Homo sapiens: one gene and its partners. The protein of the gene in region 3 purifies or fractionates together with the protein of the main gene of each other region. This does not show direct contact. Each region holds a gene or a part of one and is shown on either strand. Other genes may lie near its edges.

Region 1 (3,500 bases), on a different chromosome or scaffold from region 3:
GTGGGGCGTGCCTGTAATCCCAGCTACTCATGAGGCTGAGGCGGATAAATCACTTGAACCTGGGAGGTGGAGGTTGCAGTGAGCCGAGATTGTGCCACTGCACTCCAGCCTGGGCGACAGAGCAAGACTCAGTCTCAAAAAAAAAAAAAAAAAAAAAAAAAAAGGAACACTTAGGGATGATGTGGTCATCCAAGGCCATCCACAAGGTGGTCACCAAGGGCCCTGGGTGCTCTCGTTGGGGGTTATGGGTTAGGGTCAGTAGACAGGAGGTCCCAAAGTGGTTACCCAGAGTCCTAGAAGCTTATCTATAAAAGTCCGGACAGCTGGGGATCATAGATTTAATCAGGAAGGGTCACCCTGACCCCGGAGGCTCCCCCATGGGATCAGGTTAGGTTGGAACCACGGGTTTTATGGCACTCCTGGGGTGCAGCAATCCCTCCTCGCAACACACACCTTGGCCCACTCCCGGGCCCGCTGCTTCGTGCGGCTGGCGCTGCGCTCCTCCGCGTACAACGCTCCGATGAAAGAGCCAATGGACGTGCCGCCCACCAGGTCCACGGGGACCCCCGCCTCCTCTAATGCCTTTAGTACTCCGATGTGCGAGCAGCCCCTGCCGGGAAAATGGGCCCCAGTGACCCGCTAGGCCCCACCTGCAGGAACTCCCCTGCCCCTACCTCCTCCCACCTCCCGCACTGCTAAGGAACAAAGGACCCGCCCCTACCCACGGGGTCTCTCCCGGAGGGGAAGCTCCACCCTCGAACACCCAGGCCCCGCCCCCACGGTTTCTCCCAGGAAGCTCCACCCTCGGACATCCAGGCCCCGCCCCCAGAGAGCAAGCCCCGCCCTCACCTGGCCCCGCCCCCGCCTAGCACAAGGGCAATGGTGTTCCCCGTGAGCACCCTCGCCAAGCGGGAGAAGTCGCTGTGCCGGTCCGCGCGCCTGGAGAAAACCTTCTCGTAGAGCTCATGCTGGGATGGGGGAGATAGTCGCGACCCAGGAGCATGAGGGCGGGGTCCGGCGGATCCCCCAGGGGTACCCTGACCTTCGAGCCTGTCCTCAGCCCTCCCAGGCCCCGCCCCAGTCTCCCAAGCCTCGCCCACCAGCCACGCCCCTAGAAGGTGGGGGCCGGCCCGCTCCTCACCAGCTTGGCAGGGCTGCGGCGCGAAAAGAGGCGGCGCGGACAGCGCAGGTGCAGGTGCCCCGAGCACCAGCTGCGCATATTTAGCCACTCCACGGTGCGCGTGGGGCCCGCGCCCTCCTCTCGGTGGAGCAGGACTAGCTGCTTAAGGGCGCGCACAGCCGTGTTCTCCAGCATCTGCTCCAGCTGCGGAATACGGACGGCTGAGGTCACCAGCCGCCCCACCACCACCTGGCCACACCTGGGTCCCTGATCGCCTACCCCCATGGCGAGGGTGCACGTGGCCTGGTGCAGGCACGGGAGGGCAAAGGACGGGACCCGAGGTGGGTGAGATCAGGGGGCACGGGCTTCCGACCTGGCCGAGGGTAGGCTCCTGGTCCCCCAGGCCCACAATGAGGATGCAGTCGGCCTGTCGCAGGCAGCGCACGGTCCAGGGCGTCAGCGAGGCGTCCGTCTGGTAGAGTACGATACGGTGTGCATCCTCCTGCTGGGCCAGCCACCCTGACAGCCGGAACTCTTGGATGCTAGGGTGGGAAGGGGGCAGCGTCATCCTGGGGTTGGCCTGGGGTCAGTGTGCTCCCCGAGACCACATAGCTCCGTTGCTGGGAGGAACTTAGACACCCAAACCCCCACCACGGAAGTCCGTGCTCCGGTGGGCAGATTCACACCACTGCGAATCTCCCCATTGACCTATGGGTAAGACGCAGGCTCCGTGGTTGGAAGCCAAGAACTTGAACTCAGGTCTGAAAGAATTTGAGGCTCCAGGCCCACCCACCACCCTCCCCACTCCCTTCTGCAACACACACCTATCCAGTGCGGAGGCCCCCAGGCGTGCCCGGATGATGTCACTGTTAAGGAGTAGCGTCGGACCTAGGGGTAGGTGGGGAAGGGAGGCTGGGAACCATGGTCCACAGGGCTGGGGCCTAACTCAGAAAAGAATACCCATTACCCCGCCCCTGTGGCCCTGTTCCCCTCCACCCCCCAAATGACCTACCCTAACATCTCTCACTCACTAATGTCCCACCCACCGCCAGCCCCCACCCATGACCCTCACCCCACTGACCGATGGCCTGCAGGGCGTGCTGCAGCTCCAGCGTGAAGGCCACCATGGGGACCTCAGCACACACAGGCAGGATTGCCACAGTTGCCAGGTTGCTGGCTGGGTTGGTGAGTTCCGAGTGTGGGGGCACACCCAACCCAGAGCCTGCTAAGAACCCAATGGATGAGATTTGTGGTGCGAACCTGTGTCCAGAGAGATGAACCCTCCTCCTCCTCTTCTTCCTCTTCCTCCTTATCTGAAATTCTTGCTCCTGTGCTCCCAGACTGCAGCCCCCAGTTGCCCAAAGTCTTGACTCTACCATACAGAAAGCCATGGCTCTGGTCCTGGACCCTCAGCCTCAACTACTATTCCCTCTTTTGTTAAAACCTGGCCATCTACCCTCCACTTTGGGCCCTGATCACCTCAGTGGGATCCATTACACAACTCTACAACCATTCAGATTCACTGTGCTTGGGAGATCAATTGGCCAGTGCCCCTGCCTCATTCTGGCCTTGGTTCCTCTGTCTAATGGGGGACCTGAACATAAAACGAGGCAGAAATAAAGCTATTTTTAGCCTAGCCAACATGGAGAAACACTGCTCTACTAAAAATACACAACAATTAGCCAGGCATGGTGGCATACACCTGTAATCCCAGCTACTTGGGAGGCTGAGGCAGGAGAATCACTTGAACCTGGGAGGCAGAGGTTGCAGTGAGCCGAGATCGTGCCACTGCACTCCAGCCTGGGCTACAGAGCGAGACCCTGTCTTAAAAAGAAAATAAAAGAAAAGACAAAGACAAGAAAAGAAAAGCTACTTTTGACCCAGCTGTTGCTTCCCAGTTTCTCCACTAACAGCCTAGACCAGCTGTCAACTCCCATATCTTGCCTAGACCTCTTGTTGCCTCCTTACTGGTGGAATCCTTCCTCCCCAATCTAACAATAACAATCTAAATAAGCTCAAGTGCCTGTCCACAGCCCCTAGCCCCTATGTGACTTACCCCCCAACCCCCATCACCTCTCCCCTTGATCGCTTTCCTCCTCAGTGCTTCAAAACCACCAGCCTCCTGTGCAGCACCCCTGGTTTCTCTTTCATGTCTGGCCCCATCTTAGTTGTCAAGTCTCAGCTCACTGTCCTTAGAAAAGCCTCTTTCTCCCTCCCTTCCTCCCTCCCTCTTTCAGCCACACGGCAAGATGACCCTCTTTTGTCTTCTAGATATTGTATTCTCTATCTGTAATTTCTTTCCTTTTCTTTTCTTTTTTTTTTTCTTTCTTTTTTTTTTTTTGAGATGGAGTTTTGCTCTGGTTGCCCAGGCTGGAGTGCA
Region 2 (2,908 bases), on a different chromosome or scaffold from region 3:
AGAGCGAGACTCTGTCTCAAAAAAAAAAAGAGTCTTGCACAAATTCATGTGGCACCAGGATTCACTCCCAAGTCTGCCCCCTCCAGGACCACAGCACTCTGCCTCTTTCCAGTGAGGGCCTAAGAGGCAGCCCGCTGAGGCTGGGGGAGCCAGGAAGGATGTGGTGGAAGGGCAGCAGGAGGATCAGGTGCTCAGAGGATCAGGCCTGGGATCCAGGAGGGGCTATTGCCTGGCAGAAAGCGATGGCACCAGCAGACGCTGAGGAGGCTGCTTTGCTTTCACAGGGGTGCTGGGCCTAAACCTACAGCCAGAGCAGCCCCATGGGCTCTACCTTCTGCCCCCTGGGGCCCCCTTTATCGAGCTGCTCCCAGTCAAGGAAGGCACCCAGGAGGAAGCTGCCTCCACCCTCCTTTTGGCCGAGGCCCAGCAGGGCAAGGAGTATGAGCTGGTGCTGACGGACCGCGCCAGCCTCACCAGGTGATCAGCTGCACAGCCCCTGCTACCTGGGGCCCTATGGGACCGTGCTGGGGGCCTGGGGCATGAGCTCAGAAGACCTTGGGCCCGACCTCACTCCCACTTGCACCCCATCAGGTGCCGCCTGGGTGATGTGGTGCGAGTGGTTGGTGCCTACAATCAGTGTCCAGTCGTCAGGTTCATCTGCAGGTAGGTGACCCCGGGGAGCTGAAGGGCCATCCTTGTGTCCTGGGCTCCACTGCCTCTCCCTTCCTCCTCTTCAGGCTGGACCAGACCCTGAGTGTGCGAGGGGAAGATATTGGTGAAGACCTGTTCTCTGAGGCCCTGGGCCGGGCAGTGGGGCAGTGGGCGGGGGCCAAGCTGCTGGACCATGGCTGTGTGGAGAGCAGCATTCTGGGTGAGCCTCCCCACCGGCTCCTGCCTACCATCCTTGAGCTACCCTTCAACTCCTACCTCCCCTGCCAGGGGACTGCTAGGAAAGAGATAAGCCTCCTTTACTACTCCTACAAAAGTCCTTCTCTGCATCTAACTCTCATCCATCCTGCTGCAGTCTCTACCCATTTTCTTTCCTGATCTGTCTCCTATTTAGGATCAAGCTCTAGGTTCCTCTCCATTTACCCCACTCCCCACCAAGAAACTCTTTTTTCCCTATGAATCTCAGAGTGGGGAAGAACAGATAGGGCAGAGGACACTAGACTTGGCAGCTGCCCATTCACCGGAAGTATGTGTGCACATGGGGTCTATTCACAGATTCCTCTGCGGGCTCTGCTCCCCACTACGAGGTGTTTGTGGCGCTGAGGGGGCTGAGGAATCTGTCAGAGGAAAATCGAGACAAGGTAAAGGAGACGAGGACAGGGTCTGACTGTAGACCCCTTCACTCTGCACACTCCCAGGGTGCCATGGAGATCAGGGCTGATGGGAAGGAGAGGGGTGGCGGAGGAGAAGCTCCCTGGGGCTCTGGGAGGGGAGGGCTAAGTCCCACAGACACACACCTGTCCACACAAAACTTCTAAACACATGTAGCCTGGGCACAGCCACACACGCCTCGTGTGCACACTCACAGTCACACACCAGCTCACTCAGGCTGTTCTGTTCCCAGCTGGACCACTGCCTTCAGGAAGCCTCTCCCCGCTACAAGTCCCTGCGGTTCTGGGGCAGCGTGGGCCCTGCCAGAGTCCACCTGGTGGGGCAGGGAGCCTTCCGAGCACTCCGGGCAGCCCTCGCTGCCTGCCCCTCCTCCCCCTTCCCCCCTGCGATGCCCCGGGTCCTTCGGCACAGGCACCTGGCCCAGTGTCTGCAGGAGAGGGTGGTGTCCTGAGTCAAGTCCTGCCCCACCGCCCAGCTCCCCCCAGAGGCCACCTCGCCCCTCCCTCTGGGACCTCTCCGGATGGGGAGTCCTTGGCCAGGGTCTCTGACTCTGTGTCACCTGACATTTGCCCATGAGAGCCGCTGGGCCTTAGAGAGGCCTTGGCCCAGCTGACCGGTTCTGAAGTATGGGCCTCCGGGGTTAGCAGATGCCAGCAGTGCCTGCCCGTGTCCCCATGTCCCGGCATGAAGGACACTGCTAGAGAGTTACCATGCACACCGATGGTTTCCTGTATCACAGCCCAAAGAGGTTCTCTGGTGGCCACAGCTGTGTGCTCAGTCAGTGCACTGGGCAAGCTAGAAGTGTTGGGGGGTTAATGTCCCCAGGAGCAGCAACCCTGAGTCAATAAGGAGCAGGACCTCAGCTTCATTGTCCTTGAGCAGGACAATTCTGAAGTGTATTCTACATAAACTCTCAGAGGATGCCCAGCAGGATGGAGTCCCAGTTGCCCGCAGCAGTAACCCACTCATTCATGTACTTCCTGCGGGGGCTCTCCCTTCCCTCTCTTCCCCACTCCCCCGCCTTGGGCTTCCTGGGATGGCTCCCAAATAAACCTCTTGCACCCAGATTCTTGCCTCAGGGTCTGCTTTGGGGAAACGGGAGTGGACCCCGGCCCAGCCATTCCCCCACTGAGCTCCAGGACTTTCCCCCAACATTCTGCTCTGGGCCTGGCAAGGCTGCATGCGCACACAGGAGCCTTGGAGGACTCGTGGCACATCCTAGGCCAGCACCCACAAACCACTTCTGCGGTGGGGAAGGGAGAGCTATTACTTCACATCATAAGGCATCGCCGCAGGAAGCAACTCCGGAGACCATCTGGGTTCACTGTTCCATACTAATGAGGAAACGCAGCCTCCACAAGGTTGTAGAGGCTAAAATAAAAGAAAGAAAGAAACTGGGCTAGATTTTGGCTTCCTTCCCTCCCACTGCCTGGACTGGAGTTTTAAGGTTTTCCATCTTGGAGGCTGATGGGAGGGGCAGACCTCAGCTCCTCCTCAGTAGAGGCAGCACTGGATCCAGATGCCTCTGAATAGCTTCTCCATTCCATGTCCCACACCCAGGTCCTGG
Region 3 (3,500 bases):
GGGGTTGAGTTAACTGAGGTGGGGTTCAGGAAGGAGAAAGTGGCACTCAGTCCCCTGTCTGAAGGCCAAGGGCAGGCCAAGTGGGAGGAGGCAGGAGAAGTGATGTTTGGTTTCACATCAGCAGACCCAGCAGGCAGGAGGGAAGGGAAGATGTTTCCAGAGAAAGAATAGAGCAGTGTGGGGAGCCCACGGTCAGGGAAGGGAAGGTGATAAAGGCCTTGGCCGTGGCTATGTGCTGAGGGGAAGGAGCCTGCAGATAAAGCAGGTGGGTGGGGAGGTCGCAGGAGGTGGGGTCATGGCCCTGGGCTTGGGTACGACAGCCTTTCCCCCTCTGAGACTGCACGCCCAGGGACCTGCCCAGGGTCAGGTGTGAGAGTGACCAGCCTGGACATCCAGGGCTCTTCCCAGTAGGGAATTGAGGCAGGAAGGTGGGAAAGCTGAGGATGGAGGAGAGGCACTTGGACTGCCCCGGTGGGGAGTCTAGCTGGTGTTCTGAAGGCCCAGGCAGAGCTGTGGCCATGGGGCAAAGCCACTGGCACAGGCCAGATCCTAGGTGGATCCTGCTAGGGATGATTGAGATTCCTGTCATTCAGGGGTGTCTGGTCGTGAGCCGTGGAAGCTGACTCTGGCAGGCGGAGGTTAAAGGGGTAGGATGGGGCTGGGCTGGGGAGGAGTGTTGAGGGCGGGGCCGCAGTCACACGGCTTTAGGGTAGCAGGAGAGCTGGACTTGGCAGGGTGCAGAAAGGAGGCTAGGAGCCTGGAACCCCAGCACCAGCTTCGGTCAGGTGTAGAGGCTCAGTATACTGGCGCCGTCGCTACCCCCGCTGACACAGCTGCTATTGCTCCTTGGCAGGAGTGTCTTGGCCACCGTCTGCTCCAATTTGGAGTTCCAGGAAGGGGCCCCTGATGTCCATCCCAAGGCTAGCAGAGGGTTCAGTCCTCCAGGCTGTGTCCTGTGGGGAAGAAGCACTGGGATGTGTTCTTGGGAAGATGGAAAGGACCCCGGATCCCGTTCACAGCCCTTGTGCCTCTTCCTCTCTCCGCTGGAAAGGCCCTGGCTACCGGGGAAGGATGAGGGGGGAGGGTCCTGGGGCTGCTCCCAGCCCTGAGCTCTTTGTTGCTGCCCTTGCAGGTGCTGGGAGCCCTGTTCCTGGCTATCGGCCTCTGGGCCTGGGGTGAGAAGGTAAGGCAGCGGGCGGGCGTGGAGCTGGTATGGGACGAGGTGGTGGGAAGGTCAGCTCCCCACACCTGCCTCTGCTGCCCGGCACAGGGCGTTCTCTCGAACATCTCAGCGCTGACAGATCTGGGAGGCCTTGACCCCGTGTGGCTGTTTGTGGTAGTTGGAGGCGTCATGTCGGTGCTGGGCTTTGCTGGCTGCATTGGGGCCCTCCGGGAGAACACCTTCCTGCTCAAGTTTGTGAGTGCTGCCCTCAAGATCCCCTGGGAACCCCCATCTCCTCCCATCCAGTTCTTGCAATACAGTTGGAGCTTAATGATGGGTAGCTTTATTATTATGCTATAATCGTCATCGTTAGATTCATGTTGTCTATATTTACTAGGATCCTTTCCGTGGTATGGTAAGTGACCGAGACCTGGTGGCCCAAGCATAAAATATTTATTGACTCAAATAAGAAAAGTCCAGGGTTGTGCTGGCTGCCGGTGCATTTTGATCCAGGGGCTGCCACAGTTTCACTTGGCCTGGTTTCTCCCTGTTTCTCGGGCTCCCCCCGTTTGGCTCCATTCCCAGGTGGCAGGAGGCTCAGGAACAGAGCCGGCTTCCCCATGCCCTCCCAGGAACTCCTGCTGGAGGCTGAGAGCTCTCTTCCCAACCGTTTTCCCAAAGTGCTTTAATTGCGTTTCCTTGGCTCTGATTGGCTGCCTCTGGACCAATCCCTGGAGGCCGAGGGAGGCAGTGCTCTGATTGGTGGGCTTTAGGCACTTGCCAGTCCTGTATCTGGGACTGGTGGGTTTGGGGAGGTGTCTCCATCCGAACCTTGGAAACTAAAGGTTTGCATGGAGGATGGTTTTTCAGAGACAGCAGGGTGTGATTACCAGACAAAGGGAATTGGATGGGTAGGTAACAACAGATGCCTATTACCATCATATAACAATACTAAAATAATAGAAGGTGGGGGCTCTGGGCGCCTCTGGGTCTTGGTGGAGGTAGGGATGGAGCCCTTCCCTGTGGCACACCCAAGCCCTGGGAGGTCACCAGAGCCCTGCGTTTCCAACCCCTACTGTCTGTATGCCCAACCCCAGTTCTCCGTGTTCCTCGGTCTCATCTTCTTCCTGGAGCTGGCAACAGGGATCCTGGCCTTTGTCTTCAAGGACTGGATTCGAGACCAGCTCAACCTCTTCATCAACAACAACGTCAAGGCCTACCGGGACGACATTGACCTCCAGAACCTCATTGACTTTGCTCAGGAATACGTGAGTCCAGTGTCCAGCCTGGGACACCTGTAGGAGGCGCCTTCCTGGCAGACGAATGAGGGAGCAAGTTCCCTGTGATGGGACCATCTCCTTACCCACCTGGGCTAGCGGGCCCCAGGAGAGAGACCCAGGAGTGTCCTCGTCCGAGGAGAGCCAGCCCCTGCTGATCCTTATGGGTCCCCATTTGCCTAGTGCCATAGGGCCACGGCCTTGGGAAACAGAGGGCATGGGCTCCACGCTAGCAGCTCCCAGGCCAGGGCCTACGACACACGGGAGAATGGAGGAAATGTGACATAAAATATAGATTTCTACTTCTGCTAAACCTTGGGCCCACGGTATTGGCTGCAGCTATGTTGCTGCTGCCCCTTCACTGGTACAGAGGCTCTCTGTTTGCCATTGTTCCCAACACTCTGTATTTTATTATATCTGTCAGCCCTTATCTCTCATTTATACTATGTTTGGCCTCTGTGTATATTAGAGTTTAGACCCCTGATGGAAGGTCTGCCCTCAAACTTACAAACTTAACCCCAGTGAAGAGCAGCCAGAGAAGAGTTCCTGAAACCCTATCTGCCTCCCACCTGCACCATCTCGCCCACTCACCCCTAACCACAAACACACAGTCACACACTGTCACCCACAGTCACAACCACACCTAGTCACACACTCGCAGGCACACTTGATCACACCTACACCTACACATGGTCCCACAGTCACACATGAGTCACACCCGATCACACCCACACACGGCGACAGGCCCTTGGCACCATTCACCACCAAGAGTCAGCTCTGGATCCAGAGGTGAAGCAGAGCTGGTGCCTGCTTCAAGCAGCTCTCAACCCAGGGCAGAGGCAGACATAGCCAGGCAGTTATGATGCAGTTCATTCATTCATTCAGCACAGGATTGTTAAGGGCCTACCATATGCCGGACCCAGAGCCAGGCCCTGAGGATTCGGCGGGGAAGAAAGCTGGGACCTGTCCTCTCAGGGCTGGCAGTCGGGAAGAGACAGATGGTGAACAAGCAGAACAAACAAATGTGTGCATGTACATACGTGTGTATGCAAAATTGTACA
Region 4 (3,500 bases), on a different chromosome or scaffold from region 3:
CTTATAAGAATCATCTGTTTTTAGTTTGGGACAAAACTTATTGTAACACCCAAAGAGATAAAATATATGAGTAGGAGTAAAACTGGAATCCCAATAATGTGACTAAGGGGCTTTAAATTGTGCCTTATTATTGAAATTATTTAAATCAGTAATAGCGAATTATAGATCCAGGGAAACTTAGTTACAGAGAGATATTGGATTGATGAAAAAATAAAATATGACTAATTTGTGGTCCAATTTTCAGTGATGCCCAAGCAATTTCTCCAGTAAAAAGGCAAATTCCGATTTTAAGATTCATTTCCCTTCTGTCAATAGAGTATAGTGAATTGAGTTATATAGTAATTGGCTTTTTATTACAATTGGAACAGTAACATTGTAATGCCACTGGTGTGCCTTGGCAAGTTACTTACCTTTTATGGATCACAGTTTCCTCATTTACAAAATGAGGATCATTTCTAAAGCTTATTCCAGCTCAACGAGTCTGTGATTCTAAAACCCTAACGAAAAAATAAAGAGATAAGGGGGTCTGAAAGCACGTCTTTACCGTAAGGTAATAACCTTCTGCCAGGACGAGTGCAGTCAATTGTGTTATTTCATTCAGAATTTGAAAATAACTTCATAATAAAAAGACAAAGCAATCAAGGAAGAATTGCATATCTATATATAGAGAGAGATGCACTTGGTTATCTGCCTGCCATTCAAGCATCTTAAAGGTATTTCAAATAGGAATTTTCGAAGCAAAACATGAGCCACGTTTTCTTTCTTTCTTTTTTTTTTTTTCTATAATGGTAACAATTGTGTCACCAGTCCCACCCAACAGACCAGAAGGGTGGCAGCAGCTGCTGCGTGGGCTCCTCCAGAGGCAATGCAGCAGGGTGTCAGCCCAGCAAGATGCCCCGCCCACTCCTGTAACACCTCCCTGACACCCCGGAATGAGCAGAGCAGAGACAGGAGTAGGAGCTGCATTCTTCTGCGTTCTGCAGAGACAGCAGAGCAGCGGGTGAGGCTCTGAGCCATACCCTGGCTGTCCCAACACTGCCTTCACGAAGGGGGCTAGCTCCACGACTGAGAAGTAAACAGTGGCGGCTGCAGCCAGCGCTGCAGAACCCTGCCTCCCTTCCCCTCTGCCAACCATTCCTCCACACCCCCACCTCAGCTTGCATATCACGCAGGACTTGTAGCTCCATGAAATCGAGGGGAAAAGAAAGATTTATCGTCCACCCTCTCCTGCTACTTATTTCCACTCTACTGATGCTGCTTTTTTTTTTTTTTTTTTTTTTTTTTTTTCGTTTGTAGGCAGATTGTATCTTACGGTCTACTTTATTATGTTCAAAGTGAACCTGTTAACCTCTTTTGCCTGTGTTCCGTAGCTGTGAATGAGTCTGTGCTTTTGAAGGTACTATATCGGTGCAGCTCTAGTTGGAACACTGAATAATACTAAAGGGTGGATTTTTTTTTTTTGCAACAAGTATATAAAAATCTTCCTTAGTTAATACTAACAGAAATTTGTTATTCTATCCCTGTTTCTCTCTGCTGCATAAAAAGTAAATGGTTACTAATTGAAATTATATCAGCACAAATGCAATTAATTTTGAAGCAGCAGGCCGGGCGTGGTGGCTCACACCTGTAATCCTAGCACTTTGGGAGGCCGAGGCAGGCGGATCACGAGGTTAGGAGTTCGTAGACCAGCATGGTCAACATAGTGAAACCCTGTCTCTACTAAAAATAAAAAAATTAGCCGGGCATGGTGGCAGGCGCCTGTAATTCCAGCTACTTGGGAGGCTGAGGCAGGAGAATCGCTTGAACCCAGGAGGCAGAGGTTGCAGTGAGCCCAGATCGTGCCACTGCACTCCAGCCTGGGCGACAGAGCAAGACTTTGTCTCAAAAAAAAAAAAAAAAAAAATGAAGCAACATTGTATCACTGAATGGAGAGTGATAATCAATATTCCCTTTACTTAATGAATGCCTTTGAAAGCATAACTTGGTCTGCATTCTGTGTTTCCTTTCATGCGGTATCAGCACCAATTCAAGTTCATTACAATATTTTAATGCTATCTGTCATTCAAAATCCAGAATTTGAGGCACGTAAAACCACAATATTAAATTTTGAGGGTGAAAATCATTATTAACGACTTTATTAAAACATTATATGAAAAGTTATTAAAGTATTTTAAGTAACAAAATTTATTTACCTTAAATATTAAATGGCACCAAATTGAGTACAAATACATGTTATTGACTACATTGAACATGACCTTTTTAAGTTTAATGTAGAAGTATTTATTTTCTTTAACCATATTTTCTTATTAAAGTTTAAGCCAAAACATATTTATTCCGCTGCAAATTAGGAGACCTTCAGTGTGTCACATTTTCAAATCTTGAGATATTTTTTGCCCCCATCCCCAATTTTCTTATTTCTACAAATTTCCGATTGCTACTGTGACATCATTATGGATCTCAGAATTTATCTATACTTCTTCTGAAATTTAGATTTTTAAATGCAACACTTTCGAAGTAATAGATTTCCCAAATGTACTAAACTCTATGGAATTTTCAATAAATGTATTTTCCATAAATCTACCTGCTCTAAGAGTTAAATAAAACAATAATAACTTTTGGAAGTGTGTTTACTAGTTTGCTAGGGCTACCACAACAAAGTGCTATAAAGTGGATGGCCTAAACAACAGAAATTCATTGTCTCACAGTTCAGGAAGCTAGAAGTTTGAGACCAAAGTGTCACCGGGTTGATTTTTTTTTTTTCCTGAGGGCTGTAAAGAACACCCGGTTCCATGTTTCTCCCCTACCTTCTGGTTGGCTGCTGGTAATTTTTGGCATCCAGTGGTTTATAGAAGTTTCACCCATCACTGCCTTCACATTCATATGATGTTCTTCCTGCCTGAAAAGCTGTGTCCAAATTTCCCCTTTTTTTATAAGGACAGCAGTCATATGGGAATAGAGCCCACCCTAGTGACCTAATTTTTTACTTTTTCAACTCAGTAAAGAGCAATAAGGTCAATCTCTGAGACACTGGTGGTAGAATTTCATCATATGAATTTTGTGAGGACACAATTCAACTCATAACAGTCTTATGATAACAGTAATGTTCTTCCATATATAAGTTTTAAAGAAACAAAATTAACTAGTTGCTATTGTTACCCTGTTTCAGAGATAAAGAAACATAAAAGGTTGAATATCCTAATCTGAAAATCCCAAATCTGAAATGCTCCAAAATGTGAAACTTTTTGAGCGTCAACGTGATGCTCAAAGGAAATGTTCATTGGAGCATTGCAGATTTGGGGTATTTGGATTTGGGATGTTCAACTGGTAAGTTAATGCAAATATTACAAAACCTAAAAAAAATTTGAAATTCAAAACACTTCTGGCCCTAAGCATTTCAGACAAAGGATTTTCAACCCTTATTCTATTTGTTTAGTTTAAAACATCTGTCTTATTAGCCTCAGGTGTTTGTAGATTTGGCCACAGCATATTAGATTAGTATT
Region 5 (3,500 bases), on a different chromosome or scaffold from region 3:
GATTGTAAGCTTCTTGAGCACAGGAACTGTTTTTGTTTTCCTTATTTGTGTATCTACTGCAGTGCCTCACTGTACCTTGTACTTAATAGTTGCTCAGCAGTAGTCACTGGAGGGAATATGTAGACATATATTTGAACCTCTGGCTGGCAAGTGGCATCGAATGTGAATCTAGACCTGACCCATCTACTGTTTGTAAATTCTATGGGCTGGTTGATTAATTTTGCCAAGCTGTCCTCTTCTAAACTCAAACCTGGACTGTTTAAGTTAAAATTTACCTGCCTTTTCTATATCCCTTCCTGTTCTTTCAGTGGTACCATCAGCTTGCAAAATTGTTCAAGGTTTTCCTTTGCTCCTGATGACCTGCTTAATGTGTATGTTTTAGTTGGAGCAGTGGCTACAACATCTTAAAAGAGCTTGTCTGCAAACTCTAATGATAACCTACACAACACATGAAAACAGTGTGCTTTGAGGTAATCTGCAGTTCAGTTTAGCTTTTCTCAGCAGTATCTTCAGCAACTTTAAAGCTCTGGCAGGTTTTATCAATGTAAATAAAGTGCATTTTCTTTTTGTAGCAGGGCTTCACTTTTGAAATATAATTTATTTTCCCTTACAGTCTCTTGCTATGTTGTAGATTCTCATAAAAGAGTTTGTGGTCTTCCAAACTTTGATCTCTTGTAATCTGTCCTGGTATTATTTTCATTTTCTTGGCAGTGTCTGGGTATCATGATTTTCCATCAAAATAATTATACTGTTTTAGGATTTAGATCAAAGAAAAGTGTCACATTCTATACTAGCATTTCATTGCTAGAGGAGCAGATTATTGGCAAAATAATTTGTGCTGTATCAGCTATGTACATCTAGGATCTTAAAAGTGTCTAGTGAGTCAGGGCTCTTAAGGAACTTTTTAAATTATTTTTTAAAAATTAGTGACCATTACAAGTTGTTTACTAATATTGGTAATTGCTCAATACAAACCAACACAGGACAGTCTTTGCCTAAAAGTCTTTTGAGGGGAACGTAAAAGTAAGATAGTCTTGAGTTTCTTTTTACAGTACTAATCCTCCCTAAGGCTCTTAAAATTTATTCCCATCTCCCTATAATTCATTTGTTCTGGTATAACCTGACATAATTTCTATCCTTGTAATGTTAAACTTCAAATTTCACTTGTAAATCTTCAGATTTATTAAATGCTCTTTCCCATTGACAAACCAGTTTGAATGAATCTTTTGAAAGATTACTTAGCAAATTGCCGTAAGTCTTTGTCCTTAATGGCTAGATGATTATTTCTCACAGCAGTGCTTTAGAGGCCAGGAGATTTTGCAAGTTCTGTGAAGTTCTGTGTCCTTCAGTTCTAACCTTAAATGTTGTAAGAGGGATGGAGGAGAATCTTTCAAGTTGAACAAACTGCCGCTTGTCTGTCTAGCGTTAGGAGACATTTGTCCACTGTCTCATCCCATTGTCTTCAAATTGAAGGCTGTATATTTAACTGTCTTTTTGTAGCACTCATATTCTGTTTTGGGAGTAATAAAAAACAATCAGAAGTGGTTTACAAATGCTGGTTAATATTTGCATATGCTAACTGTGCTTTAACAATTTTAATAATACCATCATCTGTATCAGCTTTGTGGAGTTTGAAGTGAGATGGTAAAAATTAAATTTGAAGAGTGTAGTGGGAATTACCCACAGAGACTAAAGTTGCTCAGTTAAATTAAGACCTGCAAAGTAAACTTCATCTAACGGGAACAGAAGTCATGGCATGAAGCCTTTTTTTTCCTTCATCTTCTGAATACTGTGTTGTTAGCATAGAGGATCTACTCCTCAAAATATGTAAATCAAAGTTAATTTCGAAATTGGAAAATAATGTAGAAATGGTAATTTTTTTTTTTTTTTTGAGCCAGAGTTTGGCTCTCATCGCCCAGGCTGGAGTGTGGTGGCATAATCTCGGTTCACTGCAACCTCTGCCTCCCGGGTTCAAGTGATTCTACTGCCTCAGCTTCTCAAGTAGCTGGGATTACAGGTGCTCGCCACCACACCCAGCTAATTTTTTTTTTTTTTTGTATTTTTAGTAGAGACGAGTTTTCACCATGTTGGCCAGGGTGGTCTCGAACTCCTGACCTCAGATGATCCACCCGCCTCAGCCTCCCAAAGTGCTGGGATTACAGGCATGAGCCTCCATGCCCGGCCAATTCCCAAATCTTAAATTGCAGTTTACTAATTTTTTTTTTTTTTTTTTTGTGAAGTAGGGTCTTGCTTTGTCACCCAGGCTAGAGTGCAATGGCATGATCATAGCTCACTGCAGCTTTGATCTTCTGGGCTCAAGTGATCCTCCCACCTCAGCCTCCTGAGTAGCTGAGACTATAGGCACGAGCTCACGCCTGGCTATTTTTTTAATGTTTTAAATTTTTTGTAGAGACAGGATCCCACTATGTTGCCTAGGCTGGTCTCAAACTCCCGGGTTCAAACTATGCTCCTGCCTTGGCCTCCCAAAGTGCTAGGATTATAGGTGTGAGCCACTGCACCCGGCCTACTTTTTTATCTTTAGAAAATGTTTACTTTTCTAAAGATAAAATTTTGAATTAAGGAATTTCCAAGTTAAATTTCACACCACCATTTTGAACTTTCTACAGTTGCCATCTGGAGAGTAGCATGGTACAGCAAAACTAGTCCACTTAGAATGCTTCCAGGCTTAACAAATACTATACTATCAAATACTATTTGATGTGTTAACAGTACAGTCATTTAAAAATGTTATTGGCCTGGGAAAATTATTCATAAAAATATATTCTACTACCAGTAATTGGTTGATAGTTGTTTTTCTATGCTCCCCTTTCCCCTGCTCAAACTGCAAAGAAAGAATGAAATATTTCAATTTTGTAATTTTGCCTCAGATTTTTGGGACTATAGGGGATATATGAGATAAACCTACTATCACTTTTCTGTTGATCTAAACTAGAATGTAGAGATATGAAGTAGACTGAGGTCAGAGAGATACATTATGAGGTAGCTGGGATTAGAAACCTGCTTAATCTCTTAATCTCTTGTCCTTTCTGTAGTACAGTACTATTAATTCTTAATGTCTCAGGCTTTCTTTTCCTTTCATCCTTGGCTGCACATTGGAATCACTTGGAGAAGTTTACAAATGTTATGGAAGTGATGCCTGGGTCCTATTCCCAAAGATTCTTATGTATTGGTCCAAGACTGCGGGCTGGGCATCAAAAAAAGTTTTTTTTTCTGTTTTATAAGTGCTTCTTGCAGAGCAGGGCTAACCCATAATAGTACACCCAGAGTAGCCAGCATCAAAACTTTTAAAAGTTCCCCTGGTAGCCCTCGTGTGTCACCAAGTTTGAGAGCCACTCTTCCTTACCCTTTCTCTAGGTAATTTCATCCCTCGTATGGCTTCAGTTACAGTCTGTATGTTAACAGTTCCCAAACTAAATTACTGTCCTGGTCGCTGATCCTTATATCCAACTGATTAATTAGCATTTACACTAGAATATTGT
Region 6 (3,500 bases), on a different chromosome or scaffold from region 3:
TTTTCACGTTCACCTGGAACATTTACCAAGATAGTTTTTTTTTATTTGTAATTGACAAAACTGTATATATTTATCATGTACAACATGTTTTAAAACATGTATATATCATGGATGGCTAAATCAAGCTAATTAAGACAACATGCATTACCTCACATACTTTTTTTTTTGGTATGGTGAAAACACTTAAAATCCACTCTCTTAGCAATTTTCAAGAATACATTGTGACAGGAGAATGAGGGAAAGCTTCGGGAACCATGTCTTTAGGTAAGTGAGGCAACAGAATCAGGTGCACAAATGACCGAACAGGAGCACTGACAGTTACCATCTATTGTTAACAGGCAGAAAGGCAGAATACGTAAGTACAGGTACTGGTAGGTGGGTAGATCTTAAAAATAACTAGGCTATAGTGAACCATGATTATGAAGTTCATCTATAAGTACATCCTTCAAAAATGGTCTTCTGGAGAGCAATCTTTGAACATTCATTATTATTTCAATTTCTCTAAGTGCCAAAAAGCTATTAGAAGGCCTACCAGAGTGGTGGACAGACATCCTGGAATTATCTTAATTGAGATCAACTATTTCAGGTGACTACTCCATGGCACTAGACATCCTATTCAAGACTAAGTGAGGCACCAATTACCAATTCTAGAATAACTGTATTCCTATTAACCCAAAGTCCTCAAAACAGTAGCTACTATGAGGTTTTCCAAATGATTTCAGAAGTGAGGAAATCTAGCATTCTCTGGAACATCTTACAGGTATTGCTGCATGGTTTCAGGAACTTACTTGTAAAAACTACCAAATTCCAAAAAGCAGTCTCAACCTTGGCCCTGGAATTAGTTGTTTAGTCTAGTAGAGTTTTAAGAACATAATGACTAACATTAATTCTCACCAATGGATGATTACATAATCCATTCTCAATTATTTTCCCCATGTAAAAGATTATTCCTAATGTGCTCATAAATCCATATAGAGATGTAAGAATACAGTCAACAAATATTATTTACAATGCTAAAACCCTATAGAAAATAAAGTTACCAAGCACATAGTTCTATCACTTATGTGAGAAAATATTTCACTGCACTGTTCGACCAGTCAATATTAGCAACAAGTGCGCTCTTGAAATTCGGGAAGAACTACTTTTTACCAGCCACAAATTCTGACATTTTATAGTAACGAGTCACAGTTAAATAGTTTTCATTTGGATTCCCTGTCCTTTTCCATTTCTCACTAGAAAATTAAGTCTACATTTTAATACAATGAAGTATTAACTTCATTTGAAGTTGAAAAACTTCTCTTTTTCACAGGTAATAAGCTTATCTCCTAAATTTAACTCACAATCTGCACGTTATGTTACTAAAAACAAAAAAAAGTCCACTAAATATGAAACATCTACTATAAATCTGTGATCCTTGCCATTAAAGGAATCACATACTCCTTTGCAAATCTGATGAAAGTTATGTATATAATTTCAGGGAATTCACTGATACCTTGAAGCCTATTTATGGGTCCCCGAGGTTTAAAGAATCTCTGATTAATGGAAAATAGCATCCAAAATTGATCCAAGAACATATGAAAACTTAGTATGTGATTAAAAGAAGGAATGTTAACATACAGTTGGAAAAAATGATTTACTGAGAAAATCATGATAAATCTCTGTAAACATACAAATGGTTTAAAGAGCCAAATGTAATAAACTATAAAATACTATAATAAAATACAGAAAATGTACACAATCCTGGCTCTGGGTAAGTCTTCCTAAGCAAAATATGAAAACGACTTCCCTAAATTGATAGATTTAACTGTGTGTATTTTAAAACTTCTATATGAGCAAAACACACCATAAAGTCAAGAAACAAATGGCAAACTTGGACAAAAACAAATAAGAGGCCGGGTGCAGTGGCTCATGCCTGTAATCCCAGCATTTTGGAAGGCAGAGGGGGGCAGATCACTTGAGGTCAGGAGTTCAAGACCAGCCTGGCCAACATGGTGAAACCCTGTCTCTACTAAAAATACAAAAATTACCTGGGCGTGGTGGCACGTACCTGCAATCCCCGCTACTTGGGAGGCTGAGGCAGGAGTGAGCCGAAATCGTGCCACTGCACTCCAGCCTGGGTGACAGCAAGGCTCATCTCAAAAAAATAAATAAATAAATAAATAAATAAAAATAAAAAAAATTTAAAAAAGACATAGGATAGATAAAGGATTACTAATTCTAATATTTAAAAAAAAAAGTAAACCACCCAATAGAAAAATAGAAAAAAGTAACAAATAAAAGGGCAATAAACATGTAAAGATGTTCAACCTACCTAGAAATTAGAAGGTAAATTAATTGAATATATCATTTCACAGCTTCACACTGGCAAAAATTAAAAGCTGATTATCTTCTAGTGCTAATGAATGTGTGCTGGCAGTGTAGATTACTACATCTTTTGAAAAACAAAAAAATGTTGAAAAGTAGATTTTTAAATCTGTTAAATTATAAAATATGTATATTCTTTGTCCCAGCAATCTCACATACAGAATTCATCCTAGCACAAAATGACATCAACATGAGTTAAACGGACACATAAGGATGTTTCCTATAATTGTTTATAATACCAAGAAAGAAAAGAAACACTCAAAAAAATTATATATATATGTATATATACACACGCACACACACGACAGATGGGGGACAAACTGAATGTCCGTTACTAGAATAATGGCTTAATAATTTATGATACATGCATACTTTGGAATATTATACAGCTATTATTAATAGAATGAGTAAGTCACATCTATATGTACTGACCTGGAAAGATGTGTATAACATTCAAGGCAAAAAAAGCAAGCCGCATTGTAATATGTGGACTACAATGCCATATTTGTTTTTTAAAAAATAAAAATAAAAAGCTGTATTACTGAATTTTTTTTTTTAGGAATTCCTAATTAGTGAATTTCCCAAGTAGTCAATGAGTACACCTCAGTTTTGAATACATCTATTGCTCTATTAGAAGTCTCACCATCAAAATACTGTACTCTCAAATCAAGGTATATTAAAGCCACTATCAGACAATACTATCCTTTGGAATCTTCTACAATGAAAATGATAATAACTACTTTTAAGGACAAAATGTTTAATAGGTTTTTTATGCCAAAATAAAAATGCTTTTTTAACATTGTGATTTTGCACGTATGGAAAACAGCTAGATTTTTCTTTCCTATAGTAAAAATAAGCTATCTAATTCAGTTGTTTCATTGGGTAACATAATTATGTTCATTACATGAATCTAAACAAGGGGCAGACGTTACATTAAACCAATTCCTTTGTATCAGAAATTCAATTTTCTCTGAATGATATTCATTCTTAGCAATAAATGCAATTAAACACTGATATTACAATTTTAAAACTCTATTCAAATACCTAAATCTCAGCGTAATGTCAATATAAAGTCTTAAGCAGCCGGACATAATTAAAGGAGCACTTGATTTGGAATCATACATACCTGGGTTGCA
Region 7 (3,500 bases), on a different chromosome or scaffold from region 3:
AGATCACACCATTGTACTCCAGCCTGGGCAACAAAGTGAGACTTCATCTCAAAAAGAAAAAAGTAAACATAACTACACCAAAATTCAAACAAAAATATTAACACTGTTGCCCTTTATGTGAATATGAAAGTATTACCTCAAGTTGTATTTTTTAAAGCTAATTCCATTCCTGTTCTTTTATCCTATATAATAAGTCTTATCCCATATGATTTTAATATCTGATACTTTAATAAAATGAGTAAGGATTCTTCCTAATTTCTATGATCAGATACATGTATGTCATGGATAAGAACCCAACTGTTTTTTCTCTAAGACAAAAATCTAAGATACTTGGTCACTAAAAATCCACCAGCATTTTATATAATTGTTGGTCACTCCCTAATGCCAAGAGTCAGTGCAAAAAAAGCATAGAAAGGTGGCAGAAAAGAAGAAAAAGGCGAGGGCAGCCAATTAAGGCAAAAAGGAGAGGAACTGAGATGAAGCATGTAGAACATTTGGAGCCGGGGGGAAATCTCACTCCTCTCTAAAAGTCCCAAAACTGTATTTGAGTTTGGACTGATTTATTTCTAGGAAGCACCGCTGCTATTTCAGATCCGCTTACCTAGGCATCTTCTTTTCACCCTTTCCAGCTCATGCACTCTTCTGGCTGACAGCACAAGAGAAACTCCTAGTTTAGACAACTGGTAAGCCAGCTCCTCACCAATTCCACTCGAGGCTCCAGTCACCCACACCACCATATCAGTCAGCTCCCATTCTATGGAAGGAATGTAAATGGAAGGAAGAAAATAAGCAATGAATTACGCTCATAAATCCAAGATTAGAAAAAAAAAAGAAAGCCTTAAACAATACCACTAAATATGAAGGCATGATGTATAGAGTTAAAATTTGAAATATTCTAAGAAAGCATCTCCTTCTTAACTAAAAAAAAAAAAAAGCATTAATACAAATCATACTAGTAACAGTTATCAACACAGTATTTGTATATTACAGAACCTTCATGACTTTTCCAGACTTTACTTCAAGGTAAGCCTTATAACCTCATGGTTTCACTCTAAGGCTCTATTTAACACAAACAGGTAAGATAAATATGATAGATAAGATAAACAGGCTAAGTAAATACAAAAATCACTGTCTGGACTCACTTTTCCTTAGCCATTAAATGAGGCATTCAGATTAGATGATGGCTGAAGGTCACATCCAGTTTTTAATTCTATTATTCTAATATTTTGCAATGGAGGTTGATGAAGAATCTAAATATACCAAGTTCTGTGCTGTTGATGGAAACATCCTAGATTTTTAAAGTAGTATTTTCCCCATTTGCCAATAATGCCTGATGCCTATCAGCTCAAGGTCATTTTGTAAAAATGTTCCCCAGATGCCTGAGCTTTCATCTTAGGAGAATATAGTAATTCACCCAAGAACAAATGCATATTACAGAGAGATGAAATATTGTACTCTGCTTCTCCAATTATGTTCCTCTTAAAAGACTACAAATGTTACAGTACTAAAGCAATGACAAATGGTTTATTCTTTTCTCCAATGAAAAACTTATTAGCACTTCAGGAGATGATATTCACTGTCTCTCTGAACCCGTAAAGTCACTGTTATGCAAAGTTCCTGGGTGACTTATTTACTAAAATATATGTTATTTATCAAAAATATCAAATATCGTATCACTTAACATCACATTTCCGATTTTAGATCAGAAAAGTTAAAATCAGGAAATGATTGTACTGTTTTAAACAGCTCTAAATCCTAACTGTGATGTTAACAGTACCATCCCTGGAGACTGCCAGGGTTCAAATGCCAGCTCCATCACACACAGCACTGAAATGCTCCCAGGTGAGAACTTGGTGCCTTAATTTTCCACAACTGGAAATGTGATGAATAAGAACACATCCTTCACAGGATTGTTGAGAAATGAGTTAAAACATGGAAAGCACTCAGGGCAGTATCTAGTACATACTCAGTGTTTAATAAACGTCAATTATAATTATTGCTCAAGTTTTTTAACAGATGGACTTTACTACAGCAAAACATAGAACAGTCACTTAATAACGTATGTCTCCTAACTTCTCCAGCCAGGAAAACAGAGTTACCAATTCTAATGGCTTAACGTTTTTACATTACTTCCTATGTACTTAGCACATTGTCTACTAAAAGCCTCACCAGAACTGTATGGAAAGGTATTATTATCTCAGTTTTACAGAAAAGGTAACTGAGGTTTACAGAGATTAATTTGTCCCACTAGACCATAGATTCCATTAAGGGTAGGACCCTGTCTACCTTGTTCATTGCTGTGGCCTCAGTGCTTAGCAAAGACTGGAATATTGAAAAGGCTCCATAAATAACTACTGAATAAACACCCAAGAACCCTGGCAGAGCCGGGATATAAGCCCAGGTATATCTAGCTCCAAAGCCCACACTGTCCACTATTTCATGATATACACATTTACATATGATCAATATTTTAAAACCCAACTGTTTCTTAGACATTCAAGAAAATACCACTTGTCCTTAAGAAAAAGGTTCCATGTAAATATCTCAACTAAGGCCAGGTACGGTGGCTCACATCTGTAATCCCAGCACTTTGGGAGGCCAAGGCGGGCAGATCACTTGAGGCCAGGAGTTCGAGACCAGCCTGGCCAACATGATGGAACCTGTTCTCTATGAAAAATACAAAAATTAGCCAGGTGTGGTGGCGCATCGTTGTAACCCCAACTACTCAGGAGGCTGAGGTGCAAGAATTGCTTGAACCTGGGAGGCAGAGGTTGCAGTGAGCCAAGATTGCTCCACTGCACTCCAGCATGGGTGACAGAGTGAGACTCTGTCGGAAAAAAAAAAAAAAAAAAAAAAATCTCAACTAAGGATGGAAACATCCCAAATACTATGTCTGGGCTACAATGCTTTCCTGTCATATAACGTACTTTTGTGAAAAGGCACAATTGGGCCACCTTCCTATAGGACTTTATCAAGAACAACATAACATCTATTCAGATAATCATTTATTCATTCATTGACTACTTGTTGTTCCCAAGTTCTGCAATCATCACACTCTAGAGTGAATATCATTTGTTTTAGAAACACAGGATTTACTAACTAGTGTCGAGCTAACAAAGACCTCTTGATATTTACACACATAAGCAAATATTTAAAGCTGATGGTGTAAACTTTTAATACAATCACAATTCTGGCCTCTTCCTCCCACCCTGAAGAAACTTTTTTATTTAGCACCGTTTGTTTCCCGATTCCACAGAATCTGGTATACATAATGGCCTCCCTTTAAGAGCCCCTGAAAGTAGATTCTTAAGAGTTGAAAGGAAAGTGATAGTTCAACCCCCACTCCAGTTTGAGAATTCTCTTCTCAAGCCCTTGACCCATCTCTAATTCCCTCACAGGATGAGGAAGCTAATTATCTCTGAAGGCTTCAGCTCCTTTTTTGGGAAAGTCTAATCATTCCAGGGATCTTTTTTATACTGATATGATAAGCTTTTAAATGC

What was found.
Region 1: the proteins of TSPAN17 (region 3) and PNPLA6 purify together in Homo sapiens (affinity purification with mass spectrometry; 2 studies listed by BioGRID and IntAct, with this or other methods). This does not show direct contact.
Region 2: the proteins of TSPAN17 (region 3) and GHDC purify together in Homo sapiens (affinity purification with mass spectrometry; 3 studies listed by BioGRID and IntAct, with this or other methods). This does not show direct contact.
Region 4: the proteins of TSPAN17 (region 3) and GPM6A purify together in Homo sapiens (affinity purification with mass spectrometry; 2 studies listed by BioGRID and IntAct, with this or other methods). This does not show direct contact.
Region 5: the proteins of TSPAN17 (region 3) and SLC44A1 purify together in Homo sapiens (affinity purification with mass spectrometry; 3 studies listed by BioGRID and IntAct, with this or other methods). This does not show direct contact.
Region 6: the proteins of TSPAN17 (region 3) and HS2ST1 purify together in Homo sapiens (affinity purification with mass spectrometry; 2 studies listed by BioGRID and IntAct, with this or other methods). This does not show direct contact.
Region 7: the proteins of TSPAN17 (region 3) and DHRS7 purify together in Homo sapiens (affinity purification with mass spectrometry; 2 studies listed by BioGRID and IntAct, with this or other methods). This does not show direct contact.

What each region holds. Positions count from the first base shown.
Region 1 is NC_000019.10:7,552,717-7,556,216, reverse strand, and holds part of PNPLA6 (patatin-like phospholipase domain-containing protein 6), read right to left. Parts: intron 2,346-3,500; coding exon of another isoform or gene 2,343-2,345; coding exon 2,202-2,342; intron 2,009-2,201; coding exon 1,945-2,008; intron 1,663-1,944; coding exon 1,494-1,662; intron 1,325-1,493; coding exon 1,142-1,324; intron 969-1,141; coding exon 850-968; intron 611-849; coding exon 454-610; intron 1-453. UniProt on the Homo sapiens protein: Phospholipase B that deacylates intracellular phosphatidylcholine (PtdCho), generating glycerophosphocholine (GroPtdCho). This deacylation occurs at both sn-2 and sn-1 positions of PtdCho.
Region 2 is NC_000017.11:42,188,587-42,191,494, reverse strand, and holds the end of GHDC (GH3 domain-containing protein isoform 1 precursor), read left to right. Parts: intron 1-284; coding exon 285-477; intron 478-591; coding exon 592-663; intron 664-737; coding exon 738-871; intron 872-1,135; coding exon of another isoform or gene 1,136-1,224; coding exon 1,225-1,310; intron 1,311-1,573; coding exon 1,574-1,792; 3' UTR 1,793-2,408; downstream 2,409-2,908.
Region 3 is NC_000005.10:176,650,484-176,653,983, forward strand, and holds part of TSPAN17 (tetraspanin-17), read left to right. Parts: intron 1-1,132; coding exon 1,133-1,183; intron 1,184-1,270; coding exon 1,271-1,417; intron 1,418-2,259; coding exon 2,260-2,430; intron 2,431-3,500. UniProt on the Homo sapiens protein: Part of TspanC8 subgroup, composed of 6 members that interact with the transmembrane metalloprotease ADAM10.
Region 4 is NC_000004.12:175,669,265-175,672,764, reverse strand, and holds part of GPM6A (neuronal membrane glycoprotein M6-a), read left to right. Parts: intron 1-3,500. UniProt on the Homo sapiens protein: Involved in neuronal differentiation, including differentiation and migration of neuronal stem cells. Plays a role in neuronal plasticity and is involved in neurite and filopodia outgrowth, filopodia motility and probably synapse formation.
Region 5 is NC_000009.12:105,247,651-105,251,150, forward strand, and holds part of SLC44A1 (choline transporter-like protein 1), read left to right. Parts: intron 1-3,500.
Region 6 is NC_000001.11:86,917,635-86,921,134, reverse strand, and holds part of HS2ST1 (heparan sulfate 2-O-sulfotransferase 1), read right to left. Parts: intron 1-3,500. UniProt on the Homo sapiens protein: Catalyzes the transfer of a sulfo group from 3'-phospho-5'-adenylyl sulfate (PAPS) to the 2-OH position of iduronic acid (IdoA) or glucuronic acid (GlcA) within the heparan sulfate (HS) chain and participates in HS biosynthesis.
Region 7 is NC_000014.9:60,155,399-60,158,898, forward strand, and holds part of DHRS7 (dehydrogenase/reductase SDR family member 7 isoform 1 precursor), read right to left. Parts: intron 755-3,500; coding exon 602-754; intron 1-601. UniProt on the Homo sapiens protein: NADPH-dependent oxidoreductase which catalyzes the reduction of a variety of compounds bearing carbonyl groups including steroids, retinoids and xenobiotics.